Regions from separate parts of the Homo sapiens genome. Here region 1 is linked to region 2. A link means that fine-mapping ties the variant in region 2 to the expression of a gene that starts in the linked region. Tissue or cell type: whole blood. Region 2 holds a variant in brackets; the other region holds the start of a gene. All regions are shown on one strand. Distances are between the middles of the regions.

Region 1 (9,442 bases), 25 kb after region 2:
AAGGTTAACGCAAGCATGCATATGGCTTTTGTTTCACAGTAGATACACCATCGCAGCATATCTTTTTTCAACAAGCACTGTTCTAAATATAAATTTTTAAAATTTCAGTAAAGTAATAAGCTTTCATTCTCAAAGAAATATACTCTGAACCCACCCTTGTAATCCCAGCACTTTGGGAGGCCAAGGTGGGGGGATCACTTGAGGTCAGGAGTTCAAGACCAGCCTGGCCAACATGGTGAAACCCCGTCTCTACTAAAAATACAAAAATTACCTAGGTGTGGTGGCACATGCCTGTAATCCCAGCTACTCAGGAGGCTGAGGCAGGAGAACTGCTTGAACCCGGGAGGCAGAGGTTGCAGTGAGCCAAGATCACGCCACTGCATTCCAGCCTGGGAGACAGAGTGAGACTCCATCTCAAAAAAAAAAAAAGAAAAAGAAAAAGAAATATACTCTGAACCACAAAACCATTGAAACTGTTATATCATCCTTAAAAAACAGAATCAGAAATGTATGCTAGTTTACAATAGCTCCTTAAATATATGGACTTTTCTTATTTCTTTTGCAGAAGAGGGGTCAGGACATTCAGAGCCCTCCTGGAATCGGCAAGTAGTGGTGAGACTCAGGCAAAGACAAAAACCAGGGGAGCAACAGCACCGGGCTTTCTGCTACCTTCTCCCACCCTGGTGTGACAGTGGTCACAACTTCACATGAAATCAATTTCTGCTCTATAAGAGCTGACATGTCCTTCAATACCGACATTCAGGACAATCATGCGTAACATTTATAGCATGCTTACTCTGTGTCAGACACTGTTCTAGGCACTTCACAAGCATAGATTAATTTAATCCTCTCAATGATCCGAGACTAGGTAATATTGTCATCCCCATTATACAGATGACAAAACGGGGGCACAGGGTGATTAAACAATTTGCCAGAGCTCATCAGCAAGTAAGAGGAAAGCAGGGATCTGGATGCAGGCAGTTTAGCTTCAGAGGCAGCGTGCCTGATCCCAAGACTGTTCTGCCTCTCAGCTTCCTGCCTGTCATCCAAGGATCATACCAGGTCAGATTTCCAGACCAGGTCAAATTCCCACACTCTCACTAGCATTAAAAAAGAAACAGAAAAGCCTGGGAAGAAACATTTGGGACAAAATGATACAAATTTGGTAACGACCTACCAGTTGTTTTTGTACAACTCCTCAGCACCAATGAATAAATACAATGAAATAAGATTCCCGTTTAACTTTTTTTCCAGTGGGAGAGAAGGAGAGCAAGGCAAACAAATCGCCAAACACAGCAGAAAATAGTGTTTATCAGACAGATACCGAGACCCAGGGGTGTGCCGGGTTCTGTGGGCCACATGAGGGAGAGTATGGTGTCTGCCCCTCTCAGAGAGGACTGAATTGCAAAAGCAGACGTTGTCTCTAGTTCCTGGAAGAATGTACTTTGTTACATCCTGTAGGGACCAAACCTTCCAAGGTTTTAATGAAGGACCTCTTGAGAGCTGATCAGCGTATTTTGAGAGGAAAAAGTTGAATAGCAGAATTTTAAAGGGTTCAATTTTAAGAACATGAAAAAATGAAAAACTGTCCAGATTTGTCTCTTCATCTAGCCCTTGACTTGAATATAAATTCTCATAACTCTCAGACAAGTTGGGAACTATGCTATACTGTTTTTATCTGGAACATTCTGTGTAGCATTATTTGTATAATTAACTATAGTTCCTAGATAGCATCCCAAAGTGATAAATTCAAGAGAAGTGAGACTGCTGGCCTAGCTCCAGACATCTAAAAAATACAAAATAAACATAATCTCCACTTACCTTTAATCATGTTTGCAATAGGAATCCATTTCTCTTTTAAAGGATCATAGAACTCAGCCTCTTCTGCTGGAGCCCCTTTTCTGTAACCACCTAAAGCATAGACACAGCCACCCAAGGTGACTGCACAGTGGTAATACCTGGCATTGAGCATTGGCAAACCTTCTGTCCATTCATCACTTTCACTGTTATAGATCCACACTGTGTCAAGAGCTTCTATGTTATCCGTCCTGTAGCCCCCAGTTACATAAATGTTGGGTCCTAAACATGTAACACCATAGCTCTCCCTGGTATAATCTGGTATTTCTGCTCCCTGAATCCAAACATTTGTCAAAGGATCCCATATGTGAACCTCTGATAAAGGATGCCAGTAATAGCCTCCAATTATATACATTGTGGCTGTGGACCTCTGGGAAATCTCTTTATGCATGGGATTCAAGGCATTGTATATTAGGGAGCGGATCTTATTTTCGGTGAGCAGGCAGCTTCTTTGAAGGCCTAAGGCTGTTTTTAAGTACACTGGATCTATATCAATGTTGATATAGCTCAGTAGATTATAGAGGCATTCAATTCGATTTTCTACATCATGAGCAGTCCACTTAATAACTGGCTCTATGATAGCTTCTTCTTTCCAAACACTGAGATTCTTTCTGGACAAGATAAAGAGAAACTTTTCAAGGCTGATTTCCAGAAATTCTTCTTGTTGCCACACTTCCTTAAACTTTGAACATAGAATTCTTCGAGATTCCTTCTCTAGTTCTGGACACACATGAAATTCTGCAAAGGAGTGCATTCCAATACAATTATCAATATCCAAGTGCCTTACCAAAAACCGCTCACAAGCCTTCTTTACTGAAAGGAACTGTAGCAGATCCGCTGCCTCAAGCAGGCTTTGAACATTTCTTTTAGTTATTTCAATTTGGGAAGTGTATGCATAATTTACAAGGCCTTCCAGAATATCATGGTGGATGCCAGAGAGTTTTATTTTATTTTTAAATTTTTCTTTCATGTCAGCTGTGAACATTGCCTTAAAATAATTGCTGCAAGCAGCTAAAACGGCTCGGTGACAATGGAAAATTATGCCTGAAGGACACTGAAGAGTAATATCAGTAAATAATCCATCCAAGTAAAATGTTCTGAATGCATCCAGAAAATCCACTGGATGTGTTGAATCCTTGAAAAGATAAATATAATCTTCTTGTCCTTTTAGAGCCATGGCTGCAATAAATATGAAATAACAAATGTGTTTTCAATGTTGCACATTCTCTCAAATAATCAACGCTAAATAACTTGACTATCATCGGATATACTCCAAAACTGGACTAAGTTCAGCATCTAAATAATAAATGCAAAATGTGGATGGACTGTTTGATCATTTATATGGTGGTCAATTTAAATTCAGGGTAGCTCGGAGCTTGAAATGAGGCTCCTGGATTTTTCAGTAGTCCTTTTGAGAGTACTGATTTGCTATTCCATTCACCGCAATCTACCCTGGCCTGGCGTTCGGAGATGAGATCCCACACTAGGCAAGGCAAGTGTCCGAGGGTCACCCCACTCGAGGCCGGACCTCAGCTGTCTCGGCTCGGCCCCAATTCAACCTTTTCCCCAAGCTCGTCTCCCTTTCAAATCACATCGAAATGCCAAGAAAGGGATGATGGAAATATAAATGGACAAGAAGAGGTCTCGGAAAAGGGAAATCCCGAGCCCTTTCGCTTAAGGAAGGAGAGAAAGGAAGGCAGCTCGGCGCAGCCCTTGCAGCCCTCGCCCCCTCCCCCGCGCCCGCCGCAGGGGTTTCCGCGCGCCCCGCGCCTGGGCCCCGGCCCACGTTCCCGCCCGGAGACCGCCCCGCCCCGGGGCCAGGAGCGGGGCTGGACTCGAGGGCGCCGCGTGCCGCCCGCGGGCCCGGTGCCCGCGTCCCTCTGCCCGGCGCTCCGCGCAGGTGTGGGAAGGACGCCGCAGGCAGCCCCAGCGCAACGCGTTCGGCCCGGCCCGGCGCCCGCGCGGCCATTGTCTGCGCTCCTCTCCCGCGCGGCCTCGCTGCCCGCGCCCGGCCCCGCTGCCCGCGCCCGGCCCCGCTCCCCGCGCCCGGCCCCGCTCGCTCCCAGCAGGCCGGCCTCGGGCTGCGGGTCCACACCGCACCTACCTCCCGCCGGGGCTCGGGACGCGGCGCTGGCCCGCGGGCTAGTAGCGAGCGGGAGCGGGGACGCCTCCGGCCCCTCTGACCATCTTTGGAAGAGGCGCTCGGAAGCCGCCAGCTAGTGCCGCTCCACCCCACAAGCAGCTCCTATTTTGGTGTCCCGGCGGCTCCCCCGCCTCCACCCGAACAGCCCCCCGCACGGTCTGGGCGCGAGGCCACTCGCGGGAACTCCCCCGTCGCCGGGCCGTGCGGCGAGCGGGGCGGGGCGTGCAGGCGTGAGCACGGCTCGGCCCCTCCCCAGCGGCGCCCCCCACAGCAGGTGGGACTGCTTCCCCAGGAGACAGCGCGCGCCGCCGCCTTCCCCTTCCTTGGCTCGCTCTCTGTCCCGCGCGCTCTCTCACACCCGGTCGAGCGTCTTCTCTTAGATAAACTCTGAGTCCTGAATTATTAATAACACCATATATGAGTGTGTGTGTGTGTGTGTGTGTGTGCGCGCGCGCGCGTGTGCATGTGTGTACACTCCCCTCCCTCAGTAGGCTTCGCCAGCCCAGACTCAATCGTGAGGACAGAGAAGGGGGAAAGAGTGGAGAGAATGGGGCACAACTAAAGGTCAGGGATTGGAGGCGCCGTTGAAATGCCAGAAGTAGCCGGCCTTTCCCACAAACGCCATCCCACCCCCAGCAAAGCACTCAGGAGGGCGCCTTGGTGCTGGTGAGCACATCAGGGGTTAAGCTGAAGCTTTGAGAGAAACTTTGGGCAGCCGGGGCCAAGGCGAAGTCCAGGCGAAGTCCAGTCGTGCTAAGATTCAGGTTATTGTATTTAGAGCATAGCAGCTGGAAGGAGCAGCCTTTCTGGTGACGGCCACTCTAGTCACAGATGTCTATGTGGTACACAAAGTTCATTTTCTTGTTCCAACTAAAGCCAGTATCAAATATTTTTGTATATCATTCATTCATTCATTCGCAAGATTTTATTAAGTGCTTCTAGTGCCTGATAGGGATAGACACTAGTAGTGATAAGAGTGTTGACAGATGGTCCCTAGCTCACAGGGACCTTCACCACCACCAGAGGACCATGTGTTTCCCAGAGTATGGTCTCAGAAACGCAATATACATGAATGGCCAGATAGTATGTGACAACAGAACTCTGAACCACATAAGAAGCCCAGGAAGCCAGACCACAACCTTGGTAGCAGCTGAACCAGAACAGTCAGGAAGTAGTCAACGACTGGCAATTTCCCTATTTTTTTTCTTTTTTGAGACAGGGTCTTGCTATGTTGCCCAGCCTGGAATGTAGTCGCACGATCTTAGCTCACTGCAGCCTCGATCTCCTGGTCTCAAGAGATCCTCTGCCTCAACCTCCCAAGTACCTACGACTACAGATGTGCAATTTTTGAAAAATTTTAAATATTTTTTCATGACAGGGTCTCACTATGTTGCCCAGGCTGGTCTCAAACTCCTGGACTCAAGCGATCTTCCTGCCTGGGACTTCCAAAGTGCAACTTCCCTATTTTTACCCCTAGTTCCACCTCTGCACCAACCAGAGAAAGCCAAATATGTTCCGCAAACCCATCACATAAAATACCCCCGCTTCTAGTAGCCCACCTGCAGCTTTCCCATGCCAACAACTTCCAATCAGAGCATACCGGGGGCTTTTCTTCACTTCTATAAAGCTTTCCCACTCGTCTGCCCCACCTTTGAGCCTCTGACAAAGTGATGGTGAGTGGGACTCCCTTCTACAGCAAACTCTGAATAAATAGCATCTGTTGGTTCTCCTGTGGGTGGGTTTTAGTTTAATTCCACAAGTCAGATCATCTTAATTGAATTATGTAAGATGCTGGTTATGCAGCCCCCACAACTACCACACCCCACGCACAGACGTCTGCGGGGTGGAGACCTAGGGATCTGCATTCTAATCAAGGGCAGCAGGTGATTCTTATGGACAAATAAGAGAATGTGTTGGACCCAAAAGGAAGAAGGATGAAAGTTTAACATCCCAACATCTGGTAAACAGTATAGTTAGAAAAGGAAAGCATATGAGATTTAGTTTCGGGCTTAAGGCTCATCTCTGCCACTTATCCAACATATAGCCTCTCACAAATTACTAAACTTCTCTGATCCTTCGTCTTCAGATCTGTAAAACACAGACAACATGGATACTTTCTCAACCTAACCTAAGGTTATTGGAAAGACAAATTAATAATGAAGCACTTAGGACTTGATATATAAATGTTAGCTACTATAATGAAAGAATATTTACACTTAATTCTGCATCACAACCTTAATTTGGAAATTAGCATCTTCTTAACATTTCTTCAGAAATTATGAACTTCATAGTTAATAGTAATTATAGCTTGCCCTTCATAACTGATAGTGATGCTGTTGTCACTGTTGCCATTCAAGGACACAATTGTGACTGATTGAAGGAGACTTCTCTCCATTTTTGTCACTGAAGTGTAGAGATGGCTGTTTTTGCAGCTATAATTACTGTTTGCCAAGTTTGATGTATAAAAAAATATAGGCTCCATCTAACTTGGAGTAAGGGCTTCTGGAATCATAACTACATGTAATAATAAATGATTCATGAATAATAGAATTCACTATATTCTCATTTATGCAGTTATTTCAGATGGCTGCATGAACCAACTAAAACTCTTGCTTTCATTTCGTGATGTTCCCTGGTTGTGAATTACTACTTAAAAGTGTATATCAGTGTATATTACATATTAGACTATTATACTGCTTCACTTTGCTAAGAGAAGAGCAGGTCCTGAAGGGTATTGCCTGGCATAGTTCCTCTTTACCATGTGCTTATCAAAGAGACCATTGCAAATGCTGATAGATTTGATGCATTCAGAAACATATAATTAGCATTCATAAATCAAATAAATTAATGATACCGTTCAAGAAAACAGATGTGCCATCTGTGGTTCCAAGTCTTAAAGAAATAAAGTGCTGCCATGGAAATGAGACATAAATGATTTGGCAGATACTAAGCTTGGCATGGAGTTAGATGACTTATTGACATCACACTTCAGCTTTCAAAGGACTCCGAGTTCTAAAAATAATGATTTTATTTATAATTTTTACCTTATTAGTACATCTTTCCACTAAGTACAGCCATGCCATTAAATGTTTGATATGCTGTGATATCATTAACAATGTGTGTAGATGATGGGCATAGATAGAACATTTTGTATACTTCATTTACATACTGGATTAAACAAGTTGCTGCCAAGTTAAAAAAAAAAAAAAAAGGCCAGGCCCATTGGCTCACGCCTGTAATCCCAGCACTTTGGGAGACCGAGGCAGGCAGATCATGAGGTCAGGAGTTTAAGACCATCCTGACCAACATGGTGAAACCCCATCTCTACTAAAAATACAAAAATTAGCCAGGTGTGGTGGTATACGCCTATAATCCCAGCCACTCAGGAGGCTGAGGCAGGAGAATCTCTTGAACCTGGGAGGCGGAGGTTACAGTGAGCCAAGATTGCGCCATAGCACTCCAGCCTGGGCGACAGAGTGAGACTCCGTCTCAAAATAAAAAACAATAGTAGGTAAAATGTATAAGGCTACCACATACAGCTTTGCAAATTGTGCACTGCACAATTCCAGCTCATGCAACTTAAGTAGAGTACAGTGTAAACACTGCTCTCAGGAGTTGTATAGTACACAACCAACGCAGGTATCTGTGGCTGCCCTGCAGCCGATGTGTCTTGGTAAAACCTTTTTTGGTATGTTTCCTGTAAAATAAGAAAGTGAACATTCTAATAACTAGGTAAAAATGCTTTTGCAAGTCACAGGTTTCCAATTCCTGGTTTCCAGCAAAAGTGAAAGAGGATTTTTGGCAAATAATTTGGAGGGAATGACAAAATGAATGGCATTACTATAAAAAAGGTTTTTTGTTTGTTTTTTTTTTTTTGAGACGGAGTCTTACTCTGTCACCCAGGCTGGAGTGCAATGGTGTAATCTTGGCTCACTGCAACTGCTGCCTCCCAGGTTCAAGAGATTCTCCTCCCTCAGCCTCCTGATTAGCTGGACTATAGGTGCATGCTACCACGCCCAGTTCATTTTTGTATTTTTAGTAGAGATGGGGTTTTGCCATGTTGGCTAGGCTGGTCTTGAACTCCTGACCTCAGGTGATCCACCTGTCTCAGCCTCCCGAAGTGCTGGGATTACAGGCATGAGCCATCGCGCCCGGCCACTATGATAAAATTTATCTCATTCTTACCTATTTGTCTCTGTGAACATGTTTTCTCAGCGATTATGTCTATAGAAATGTTAAGCAGGAACATTATTGAACCTAAATACTGTCTCATTCCAGCAGTAAGCACTACTTGACTTCATACTCTAAATGAAAGTAGCCCTATTCATCAGATTGAAATAATTTTTAATAATTTTTTACTTTTGATTTAAACATATTTATGTTTAATTAATTATAATAATAATTATAATATTAATTAGACCAGGATTTGTAAAATAACCAAAGATATAAAACCATCAAGGACATACAAATTGTAATTTATACACATTTTTGTCACAGAGAAGGTTAAGAGATTAATAAAAGATATTCAGTATAAAACCATACAGAAAAGTCTTTCTTTTTTTTGGCCTGGCCAAAAATGCTTTCTTTGAATGGTTCCAATATGTATGAATTTTAGTTACCATGGTTTAGTTAAATAACACCTGTCCCCTGAGAACAAGGTTTCAAATTTCAGTTACTGAAGTAAATTAACTCTGAGTAACTGCATAAAATACAAATTTGCTGCTAGCTCCTCAGGTCCATGAATTACTACATTAACAAATGCGCATCCTGATCAGTGACCAATCATGTATCTTCTTTCAAAGTCTGTCAGTGATTGATCTCTGTGCATCTGTCAGTTCACATACAGACAGTAAGGCTTGCAGTTGCATTGTCTCCTTGTCTGCTAGTAAAAAACCCATGTGACATTTTACAAAAATGGGTGATTGAGAAAGGGTATTGACCAACAAGGATGAAAGTATGGCATGGAAATAAAAAGTGACAATACCGCAAATAAAATGTGAAATGGCTGGGCATGGTGGCTTACGCCTGTAATTCCAGCACTTTGGGAGGCCAAGGTAGGCGGATCACCTGAGGTCAGGAGTTCGAGACCAGCCTGGCCAACATGGTGAAACCCTGTGTCTACTAAAAATACAAAAACTAGCCAGGCGTAGTGGTGGGTGCCTGTAATCCCAGCTACTCAGAGACTGAGGCAGGAGAATCACTTGAACCTGGGAGGCGGAGGTTGCAGTGAGCCAAGATTGTGCCATTGCACTTCGGCCTGGGTGACAAGAGCAAAACTCCGTCTAAAAAAATCAACAAAAAAAAAGTGAAATGAACACAATGAGGTTATAGAGGAAATAGCTGACCATGGGAATGTTTACACTACCACCATTGGAGAGAATTCAGATATGCAGCCAGGGAACTTAGTGCAGGTGAACTCATGACATAAGTGAGTCACCTTAT
Region 2 (10,944 bases):
TTGGAGGACGCTAACAACTATTTTGCAAACTAGTAAATAAAGGGAAGAATCAAGCATTTAACCTGCCTTTCCTACACAAACTGTAACTCTGAGTAAACAACTAGTAAATGAGGGAATGTCTCTTTTTATAGAAGTATTTAAACAAATAGACCAAGAAGAGACAACAGCGGTCAGGCGCGGTGGCTCATGCCTGTAATCCCAGCACTTTGGGAGGCCGAGGCGGGCAGATCACGAGGTCAGGAGATCAAGACCATCCTGGCTAACACGGTAAAACCCCATCTCTACTAAAAATACAAAAAATTAGCCAGGCGTGGTGGCGAGCGCCTGTAGTCCCAGCTACTCAGGAGGCTGAGGCAGGAGAATGGCGTGAACCCAGGAGGTGGAGCTTGCAGTGAGCTGAGATCGTGCCACTGCACTCCAGCCTGGGCGACGGAGCGAGACTCTATCTCAAAAAAAAAAAAAAAAAGGAAGAGACAATAGCATTGGAAATCACCATTTTGCAACCCTTAATGAATTAAGGATCTAGGATTGAGCATCTACAGCTGCTAACATCACAGATAACCAGACGTTAGGTTTTTTTTTTTTTTTTTTTTGAGATAGAGTATCACTCTGTTGTCCAGGCTGGAGTGCAGCGGCACCATCTCGACTCACTGCAACCTCTACCTCCCAGGTTCAAGCGATTCTTGTGCCTCAGCCTACTGAGTAGCTGGGATTACAGGTGCCCGCCACCATGCCTGGCTAATTTTTTTGTATTTTTAGTAGAGATGGGGTTTCACCATGTTGGCCAGGATGGTCTCGAATTCCTGACCTCAAGTGATCCCAGCCTCGCAAAGTGCTGGGATTACAGGCGTGAGCCACCACACCTGGCCCAAATGTTAGGTATCTTTTGTCAAACACATCATCACCTATGAAGTAGTCTTGACAAAAACAAAATCAAACCTGAATCTGATTAGGCCTCTAGATCTAAGTATCAACATATAGGACATACAGAGAACAGAGGAATGTGCTAATCTACACAACATGAATCAGTAAAATACCAACATTGAAAAAGTAGGATATATGATCAAGGTTCTTCAACAAATACACTGCCAGGAGTTGAAATAAAGAAGAGATGGACAAGGAATTTATAAAATAAGAGAGCTAAAAGACAAAGCAAAGCTAAATACAGTGTTTAGAGATTTACAGTTGGGTGATGTAGTGAGTTGAATGCAAATATGACCACGTCCTACTACCTGGAACCTATGAATGTTACCTTAATTGGAAAAAGGATCTTTGTAGATGTAATTAAGGATCTTAAGAAAATCATCCTAGAGGCCAGGTGTGGTGGCTCACGCCTGTAATCCCAACACTTTGGGAGGCCAAGGCGGGTGGATCACGAGGTCAGGAGATCGAGACCATCCTGGCCAACATGGTGAAACCCCATCTGTACAAAAAAAATACAAAAATTACCCGGGTGTGATGGCACGTGCCTGTAATCCTAGCTACTCTGGAGGCTGAGGCACGAGAATCACTTGAACCCAGGAGGCGGAAGTTGCATTGAGGTGAGATCTTGCCACTGCACTCCAGCCTGGCAACAGAGCGAGACTCCACCTCAAAAAAGAAAAGAAAAGAAAAGAAAGTCATCCTAGATTATCCTGGTGGCCCTAAATCCAACAACAAGTGTCCTTATAAGAGTTAGGCAGAGGGAGATTTGACACAGATGGAAGAGGAGGAGACAATGTGACCAGGGAGCAGAGATTGGAGTGATGTGGCCACAAGTCAAGGAATGCCAGCAACCACAGGAGGCTGGAAAAGAATGGATTCTTCCCTAGGTCCCCCAGGGGTGCAGCCCTGCTGGCACCTCAAATTCAGACCTCTGGGCTCCAGAACTTTGAAAGAACACATTTCTGTTGCCATCTAGTTTAATTTTTTACAGCAGCCACAGGATGCTCATAATACAGGTGGATAATATCCAAGAGAAAGAAAATAATCCCCATAGTGAAGACAGAGGTTATCGATAAGGGTTTAGGAGATACATGTGGAGGGTGTCTGGGGTAGTTGGCAAGGTATTCTCTCCTGACATGGATGCCAGTTGCAAGGTAGTTGCCCTTTAATAACTCAAGCTGTACATTTGTCTCATGTGGATTTCTGTATTCGTATCATATTTAACAGTAAATAAAGTTTTCAAAAAATCATACAACTAGTAAAGCTCTAATCTCAAATGTCTGCCCGCGCACAAGGAGGGCCTGTGTTCTCTCGACAGGGAAGAAGGTACGACTCATTTCCTTGATGGTCAAGGTGTGAGGAGGGAAAAGCTATAAAGGGTTAGAGAAGGGCTGCAGAAACACACCTTCGGGAAACCACAAGTACCACTTTTATGTATTTATCTGTCCAGGAAAGAACTAGAAACAAAAGTTTGTCTGTGAACTTTCAAATGAAAGATGTATTTCACAAGTCTCTGCTGAAAGTGTTCACAGATTATACATGCTCAGCCTGACTTTTAAATGCCACTGAACAAAGGTTGGGGAGTGGGTAATAATTAACTACAGTCTATTAAGGCTGATGGATACAGTGCTGGTACTTCAGATTTCCCAACGAGAACCTCTGTAGGTACTTGTAGGTATACAATCTTGTGGTCTGTTTTGAATTTCAAAGGTAAAAGTTGAAATGTTGGCAATCTTGTGTATCCAACGTGGCACAATTTGCAGTGACTCTTCCTAAACCAGCTCAGAACACCCTTAGGAGGCGGCCAGTTGGGATCTGCAATATTCACTGGAGGTTTGAGCAGGATGCTCAACACCCGTCCAGTGAGGCCCCCACAAAAATATTATCTTTTAACTCAGAGGGCCCCAGTACGAGTTTAACAGTCTATGACTCACAACTTCAAAATAACATCGAAATTCAATTCAGAGTTAAAGACTGTATGACGATGCCCCGGATTTTAAGAAGACAGTTCTGTTGGCCATATTTTTATGTTCATTGCTATATAGTCCATAAAATTTGTGTCACAACTTCTTCTTTTCTTGAATTTTTATAATTTATATACCCCAATTTTACTAAAGACTACTATATTGTTTTTGTTTTTCAACCTTTATTTTAGGTTCAGGGGTACATGTGCAGGTTTGATATACAGGTTAATTTGTGTCATGGGGGTGTGTTGAACAGATTATTTCATTACCCAGGCATTAAGCCTAGTACCCAACAGTGTTTTTTGTTTGTTTTAAGCAGAGTCTCGCTCTGTTGCACAGGCTGGAGTGCAGTGGCATGATCTCAGCCCACTGCAGCCTCTGCCTCCTGGGTTTAAGCAATTCTCATGTCTCAGCCTCCAGAGTAGCTGGAATTACAAGCATGCACACCCATGCCTGGCTAATTTTTATACTTTTAGTAGAGACGGGGTTTTGCCATTTTGGCCAGGCTGGTCTTGAACTCCTCACCTCAAGTGATCCACCCGCCTTGGCCTCTCAAAATGCTGGGGTCACAGGTGTGAGCCACTGCACCTGGCCCCAATAGTTATTTTTTCTGCTCCTCTCCCTCCTCCAACCCTCCACCCTAAAGTGTTTGTTGCTCCCTTGTGTTCATGGATTCTCAGAATTTAGCTTCCATTTATAAGTGAAAACATGCAGTATTTGGTTTTCTCTTCCTGCATTAGTTTGCTAAGAATAATAGCCTTCAGCTCCATCCATGTTCCCACAAGACATGATCTCACTCCTTTTTAAGGTTGCATAGTATCCCATGATGTATGTGTACCACATTCTCTTTTTGCAATCCGTCATTGACAGACATTTAGGTTGATCCCATGTCTTTACTATTGTGAATAGTGCTGCAATGAACATTTGCAGGCATGTGTCTTTATGGTAAAATGATTTATATTCCTTTGGGTATATGTATACCCAGTAATGGGACTGCTGGGTCAAATGATAGTTGTTTTTAGCTCTTAGAGGAGTCACCACACTACTTTCCACAATGGCTGAACCTAATTTACACTCCCACTAACAGTGTATAAATGTTCTCCTTTCTCCACAACCTCACCAGCATCTGTTATTTTTTTCGTTTTTTAGTAATAGCTATTCTAACTGGTGTGAGATATTACCTCACTGTGGTTTTGATTTGCATTTCTCTAATGATCAGTGATACCGACCTTTTTTTCATAGGCTTTTTGGCCACATACATGTCTTCTTTTGTAAAAGGACTAGTATATCTTGGCCGGGTGTGGTGGCTCACACCTGTATTCCCAGCACTTTGGGGGGCCAAGGCGGGGGAGATCACCTGAGGTCGGGCGTTCGAGACCAGCCTGACCAACATGTAGAAACCCCATCTCTACTAAAAATACAAAATTAGCCAGGCGTGGTGGCACATGCCTGTAATCCCAGCTACTCAGGAGGCTGAGGCGGGAGAATCGCTTGAACCCAGGAGGCAGAGGTTGCAGTGAGCCAAGATCGCGCCACTGCACTCCAGTCTGGGCAACAAGAGCAAAATCCCGTCTCAGAAAAAAAAAAAAAAAAAAAAAAAGGCCAGACACGGTGGCTCACGCTTGTAAACCCAGCACTTTGGGAGGCTAAGGCGGGCAGATCACGAGGTCAGGAGATCGAGGCCATCCTGGCTAACACGGTGAAACCCTGTCTCTACTAAAAATACAAAAAATGAGCCGGGCGTGGTGGCGGGCTCCTGTAGTCCCAGCTACTCAGGAGGCTGAGGCAGGAGAATGGTGTGAACCCGGGAGGTGGAGCTTGCAGTGAGTAGAGATC[G/A]CACCACTGCACTCCAGCCTGGGCAACAGAGCGAGACTCCGTCTCAAGAGAAAATAAATAAATAAATAAGAAAAACGACTAGTATATAATGTTAGGTGATGCTTTATTTATTACCTTCAATAAAAATGAGAATTCCTCTCATTTAATTTCTTGACAATAGAATTAATTTCATATAGAGTCTTTCAAATGTGAAACATTGGTAAGTTGTGTTATTTACTACTGTGATAGTTAATGAAGCTTTTTTTTTCTTTTTTTTTTTTTTTGAGAGAGAGGGTCTCACTCTGTCACCCAGGCTGGAGTGTGGTGGCATGATCATAGCTCACTGCAGCCCCAAACTCCTAGGCTCAAGTGACCCTCCCACCCCAACCTCTTGAGTAGCTAGGACTACAGGCATGTGTCACCACGCCCAGGTAATTTTTTGGATTTTTTTGTAGAGATAGAGTTGCACAGGCTGGTCTTAAATTCCTGGCCTCAAGTAATTCTCTAGCCTGGGCCTCCCAAAGTGCTGGGATTATAGGTGTGATCACCACATCTGGCCTAATGAAGCCTTAATATCAGTATTGATATTTCATAACTTTATAAATATTATTTTCTTACACTGCTCTATTTCTTAGCTGTTAAATAATAATTGCTATAGCTAAAACACCTTATGAAATACTTGATATTATGAAATACTTTGGTTGTCTTATATAGATTGACATTTAATAATAATTGGGCTAGGCACAGTGGCTCATGCCTGTAATTCCAGCACTTTGGGAGGCCAAGGCAGACAGATCACTTGAGGTCAGGAGTTCGAGACCAGCCTGGCCAACATGGTGAAATCCCATCTCTACTAAAAATACAAAAATTAGCTGGAGGTGGTGGGGTACCTGTAATCCCAGCTACTTGGGAGGCTGAGGAATGAGAATCACTTGAACCCAGAAGGCGGAGGTTGCAGTGAGCTGAGATCCGGCCACTGCATTCCAGACTGGGCAACAGGCAAGACTTTGTCTCAAAATAATAATTGGCAAATAAATTATGTGAAAACAACTTTTTATATTAGCCTCAAGAAAGATGAACTCTTTATCACCTTGAGTCTTTCTCTCTCCTAGGAGCAAAAACCTTTTTTTTTTTTTTTTTTTTTGGTAGAGGACCACCCCCCTAGAACCCTTCTTCTAATATCTTAGAGGTTAGAACTGCTTCACATACATTCCTCCACCAAACACTGGCAAGGAGGATGGACTATCCATGATTGGCTTAGGGTAATTAAGATTCAAGTTACATGGCCTCCTAATATGCAAAAAGACCTGGGGCTCTTGATAATCTACATCTTTGACACAATTAGTCACTTCTCTTGCATTATATTTTGCTTCCAGCCCTTGGCAGAATGGTCTAATAGTCAATGACCCTGTCACCAACTTCTTTTTTTTTTTCCTAAACCTACTTTCTATCTTCCACTCCTCAGGAGTTCCTGACACCCATCATTGTTTTTTGTTTTTTTCTTTTTCTTTCTGTCAGAAACTCCTCTCAAATCAAATGGAATTGCGAAAGTCAGGATAAGACAATATATCACTATCTGTGGTATGCAGAATAATGGTCCCCTAAAGATGTCTACATCTTGATCTTTGGAATCTGTGTATCAGGTTACATGGAAAGGAGAATTAAGGCTCCTAACACTGATATGGTGAATCCTGTACCACGCTTCTATCCTGCAGAATTATAAAATAAATTTGTATTACTTTAAGCTACTAAGTTTGTGGTAATTTCTTACAGAAGTGATAGAAAACACAATACACTTTCCAAAAATATTTACATTTTAACAAGGGACAAAGCCCTTCCTTGACTTAGCATATTTTTCGTTGCAAGAGATAGAAACTTGATTCAAAACAAAAAAGGATCTATTGGGTCACATCACCATCCAACTGTGGAAAAGACAGGAATGGAACTGTGTCAGGAAGGCCTAGAACCAGACGTTAACATCATCCCCCATCCCCAGTCACTGGGCATCTGTATCTGTTCTCTTCATTCACGCCAGCTTAGTCCCAACAGCAGGGAACTTGGCCAACCACAGCTCTAGGTCTGCCCCCATGACTCAAACACCTCCCATTAGGCCCCATCTCCAATCCTGGGGATCAAATTTCAACATGAGGTTTGGAGGGGAAGAATTTCCAAACCATAGCATTCCACCCCTGGCCCCCAAAACTGATGTCCTTCCCACATGTAAAGTACAATCATCCATCTCAACGGTCCCAAATGTCTTAAGTTGTTCCAGTACCAACTCAAATGTCCAAAGTCCAAAATCTCATCTGAGATTCAAGAACAGTTCCTTTCAGCTATGAGCATGTAAAATAAAAAACAAGTTATTTCATTCCAAGATACAATGGTTATACAGGCATTCCCATGTCAAACATTCCCATGTCAAATGGGAGAAATCAGTGAAAAGAAAAGGGTAATAGGCCCCATGCGTGTCCAAAACCCAGCAGGGCAGGCATTAAATCTTAAAACTCCAAAATAATCTCCTCTATGTCCCACAACCTGGGCACACTGGTGGGTCCTGAGGCCTTGAGCAGACCCATCCCTGTGGCTTTTCTGGGTGCAGCCCATGTGGCTGCTCTCATAAGGTGGAGTCAAATGCCAGAGGCTTTTCCAGGCTGAAGGTACACACTGCTGGTGGCTCTATCATTCTGGGGGCTGGAAGGCAGTGGCCCTCCTGCAAATCCACCAGGCATTACTCTCGCAGAGGCTGGCTGTGAAGGGTCTGACTCTGCCGCAGGCTTTTGCTTGGGCACCCAGGCTTTCCAATAAATCCTCTGAAATCTAAGTGGAAGCCACATCTCCATAGCTCTTGCATTCTGTGGGCCTGCAGAATTAATACCACGTGGATATCACCAAGGCTTCCACCTCGTGCCCTCTGGAGCAGCAGCACCAATCTTATCTGGGGTTCCTGGGGTCATTTGAGCCACAGCTGCTACAGCCTGGGAACAGCATCCTGAAGCAGTGAGGAGCAGTGGTGCCCTGGTCCTGTTCCCCAAAACCAATCTGTCCTCCTAATACCCCTAGGCCTGTGATGGGAGGGGTGGCTGCCCAGCGGAAATTTCGATTTGTGAAATGCCTTTGTGGCCTTTTCCCCACTGTCTTGACTATTAGTACCTAGATCCCTTTTTGTCACCCTAAACTCTTTAGCAACCTGTGGCTCCAGCTTGACCCTTGGATTCCTCTCCTGAATATGCTCTTTCCTTCTCTATTACATGACCAGGCTGAGAATTTTCCAATATTTTACACTCTGCTTTTAATGATAAATTCTGCCTTTAAGTCATTCCTTTGCTGCTGCAATTCAACATATGCTGTTAAAAGTAATCATACACTTCTCGATTGCTTTGCTGCTTAGAAATTTCTTCTGTCAATTACACTAGGTCATTACTCTTACGTTTGGTCTTCCACAAAGCCCTAGGGCATGGACACAATGCAGCCAAGTTCTTTGCTGTGCTGTAACATGGGTGATCTCTGCTTCAGTTCCCAGTAAGTTCCTCATTTCCACCTGAGACCTTGTCAAGATGGCCTTTACTGTCTATATTTTTTTTTAATTTTTTTTAATTTTTTAAAAGTCCCCATTTGACATACTGTCTACATTTCTATCAGCATTTTGGTCATAACCAATTAATCAATCTGTAAGAAGTTCCAACCTCTTAGAATTTCCAATCTCTAAATTCCTCATCTTTTTGTCTTCTTGTAACCAGGGGCCTCGGTGTTAAAAATCACCCACTTTCTTTTTCTTCCTTCCCTCTCTAGACACTCCCTTTCAGCACAATGTATGCTTATCTAATTAGGCTCTTGCTTGAGAAATCCCAGAGGCTAACCTTGAAACAAATCAGGGACAGAGCCCTCATTGAGGAATTCTCCCATTTGGAGGGAGTAACCAACAATTAGTCCACCATTATCAGGCCAAAGTCAAGATAATGCCAACCAGACGTCTGGACAGGCATTACCCAAGATAACCACTGGAACAAGACACACAGACCCTGTACCCTGCACCTCCACATGTCTCCAAGTTTCCCTTTAAAAATCCTATGGTAAATTTTAAAATGTAAGATGGTACTTTCATTGCAGCACTATTCACAATAGCAAAGACATGGAATCAACCTAAATGCCCATCAGTGATAGACTGGATACAGAAAATGTGGTACATATACGCCATGCAATACTATGCAGCCATAAAAAATGAGATCATGTCCTTTGCAGGGACATGGATGAACCTGGAAGCCATTATCCTCAGCAAACTAATGCAGGAACAAAAAAAGCAAACACCACATGTTCTCAATTTAAGTGGGAGCTGAATGATAAGAACACATGGACACATGGTGGGGGACAACACACTAGGGCCTGTGGGGATGGGGGTTGAGGGGACGGAGAGCATCAGGAAGAACAGCTAATGGGCGCTGGGCTTAATACCTAGGCGATGGAATGATCTGTGCAGCAAACTACCATGGCACACGTTTACCTGTGTAACAAATCTGCACATCCGCACATCTACCCGGGAACTTAAAATAAAAGTTGAAGAAAAAAATAAAGATGGTACTTTCGAATGCTTGTTCACTATGTTCTCAAGTTTGCTGGCTCTCCAATTAAACCTGCTTTTCCTCCCACCAATCCTAGCCTCTAATGTCTGGTGTTTGAGCAGCAGCAGCTGAACCTAAGTCTGGTTACATTCTGAGCCCTCCAAACTCTTCCAACCTCAGCCCATTACCCAGTTCCAAAGCTGCTTTCTCATGTTTAGGTATTGTTAAAGCTATACCCCACTCCTCAGTACCAATTTTCTGTCTTATTCCATTTTGTATTGTTATAAAAGAATACCAGAGACTGATAATTTATTAAGAAAAAAAGGTTTATTTAGGCCGGGTGGGGTGGCTCATGACAGCACGTTAGGAGGCCAAGGCTGATGGATCACGAGGTAAAGAGATTGAGACTATCCTAGCCAACATGGTGAAACCCCGTTTCTACTAAAAATACAAAAATTAGCTGGGCGTGGTGGTGCACATCTGTTAGTCCCAGCTACTCTGGAGGCTGAGGCAGGAGAATCCCTTGAATCGGGGAGGCGGAGGTTGCAGTGAGCCGAGATTGCACCACTGCACTCCAGCCTGGTGACAGAGCGAGACTCCGTCTCAAAAAAAAAAAAAAGAAGAAAGAAAAAAAGGTTTATATAGCTCAAGATTCTGATGGTTGCAAAGTCCAAGATTGGGCATCTGCATCTGATGAGGGCCTCACACCTGCTTCCACTCATGGTGGAAAGCAAAGGGGAGCTTGTGTGTGCAGAGATCACATGGCAAGAAAAGGAAGAGAAAGGAAGGGAGGTGCCAGGCTCTTTTTAACAACCAGCTCTCATTGGAACAGAGAACTCACCCACAAGGGAGGGGGTTAATCTATCCATGAGGGATCTGCCCCCATGACCCAAACACCTCTCATTAGGTCTCACCTCCAACACTGGGGAGCAAATTTCAACATGAGACTTGGAGAGGTCAAACATCCAAACCATAGCATAGTCCAAGTGTAAGTGCCTCATAAAAAAAGAGTTAGGGCATCAGCACAGTCACAGCCTTTGGAAGAACTGCTCTAAGGCAGACAGAAGCCCCAAGCTGTGTCTGCTGTGGCCTAAGAAATGTAAGCCGTATTTATAGTTTCAGACATTTTCAGACTAATAAAACAAGTGTTTTTTGTTGCTTTGCATACGTGAAGGGAGGGAGGATGGAGGGCTGACTGTCTGCTACTGGCTGATCCAGCACCTAAACTGATCATATAAACGGTGATCTCCTCTGCAGTCTGTATTAGTCAGCTTGGGCTACCATAATGGGTGGCAAACAAGCAATTTTTATTCTCACAGTTCTGGAGGCTGGAAGTTTGAGATCAGGGTGCCAATATGGTTGGGTTCTGGTGAGGGCTTGCTTCTGGCTTTCAGACAGCAAGATGTCTTTTCTTATAATGACACTTATGTTAAATCAGGGCCCTATCCTCAGTACCTCATTTAACCTTAATTACTTCCATAAAGGCTGTATCTCCAAATATAGTCACATTGAGAGTTGGGGCTTACAGATATTTATTTATATAAATGTGAAAACATAGGGCAATGTGCCTTTGAGCAAGTACCCTAGATGCTAATCCTCTTTCAGTTCCAGCTAAAACACTGAAAATAAAACCTAAGAGAAATAACAGCTTCTAAAATTTGGATAAACTCATCTTAATTAATCCA

The links. PIP is the estimated chance that this variant, and not a neighbour inherited with it, causes the effect.
Region 1: it holds the start of KLHL23, and the variant in region 2 is fine-mapped to the expression of KLHL23 in whole blood (TOPMed, PIP above 0.99).

The regions. Positions count from the first base shown.
Region 1 is chr2:169,728,607-169,738,048 of GRCh38, reverse strand. It overlaps KLHL23 (kelch like family member 23), which reads right to left and starts at 4,217. Exons shown (of 4, transcript NM_144711.6): 1 at 3,962-4,217; 2 at 1,822-3,036. The coding sequence starts at 3,034. All of the region lies in intron 3 of PHOSPHO2-KLHL23 (PHOSPHO2-KLHL23 readthrough), which reads right to left. RefSeq lists silencers at 3,527-3,706, 3,817-3,886, 3,907-4,346.
Region 2 is chr2:169,753,314-169,764,257 of GRCh38, reverse strand. No RefSeq gene overlaps it. Among named protein-coding and RNA genes, the nearest start is that of KLHL23, 25 kb to the right of the region's middle. The variant G/A (reference allele first, on the strand shown) is at 4,725.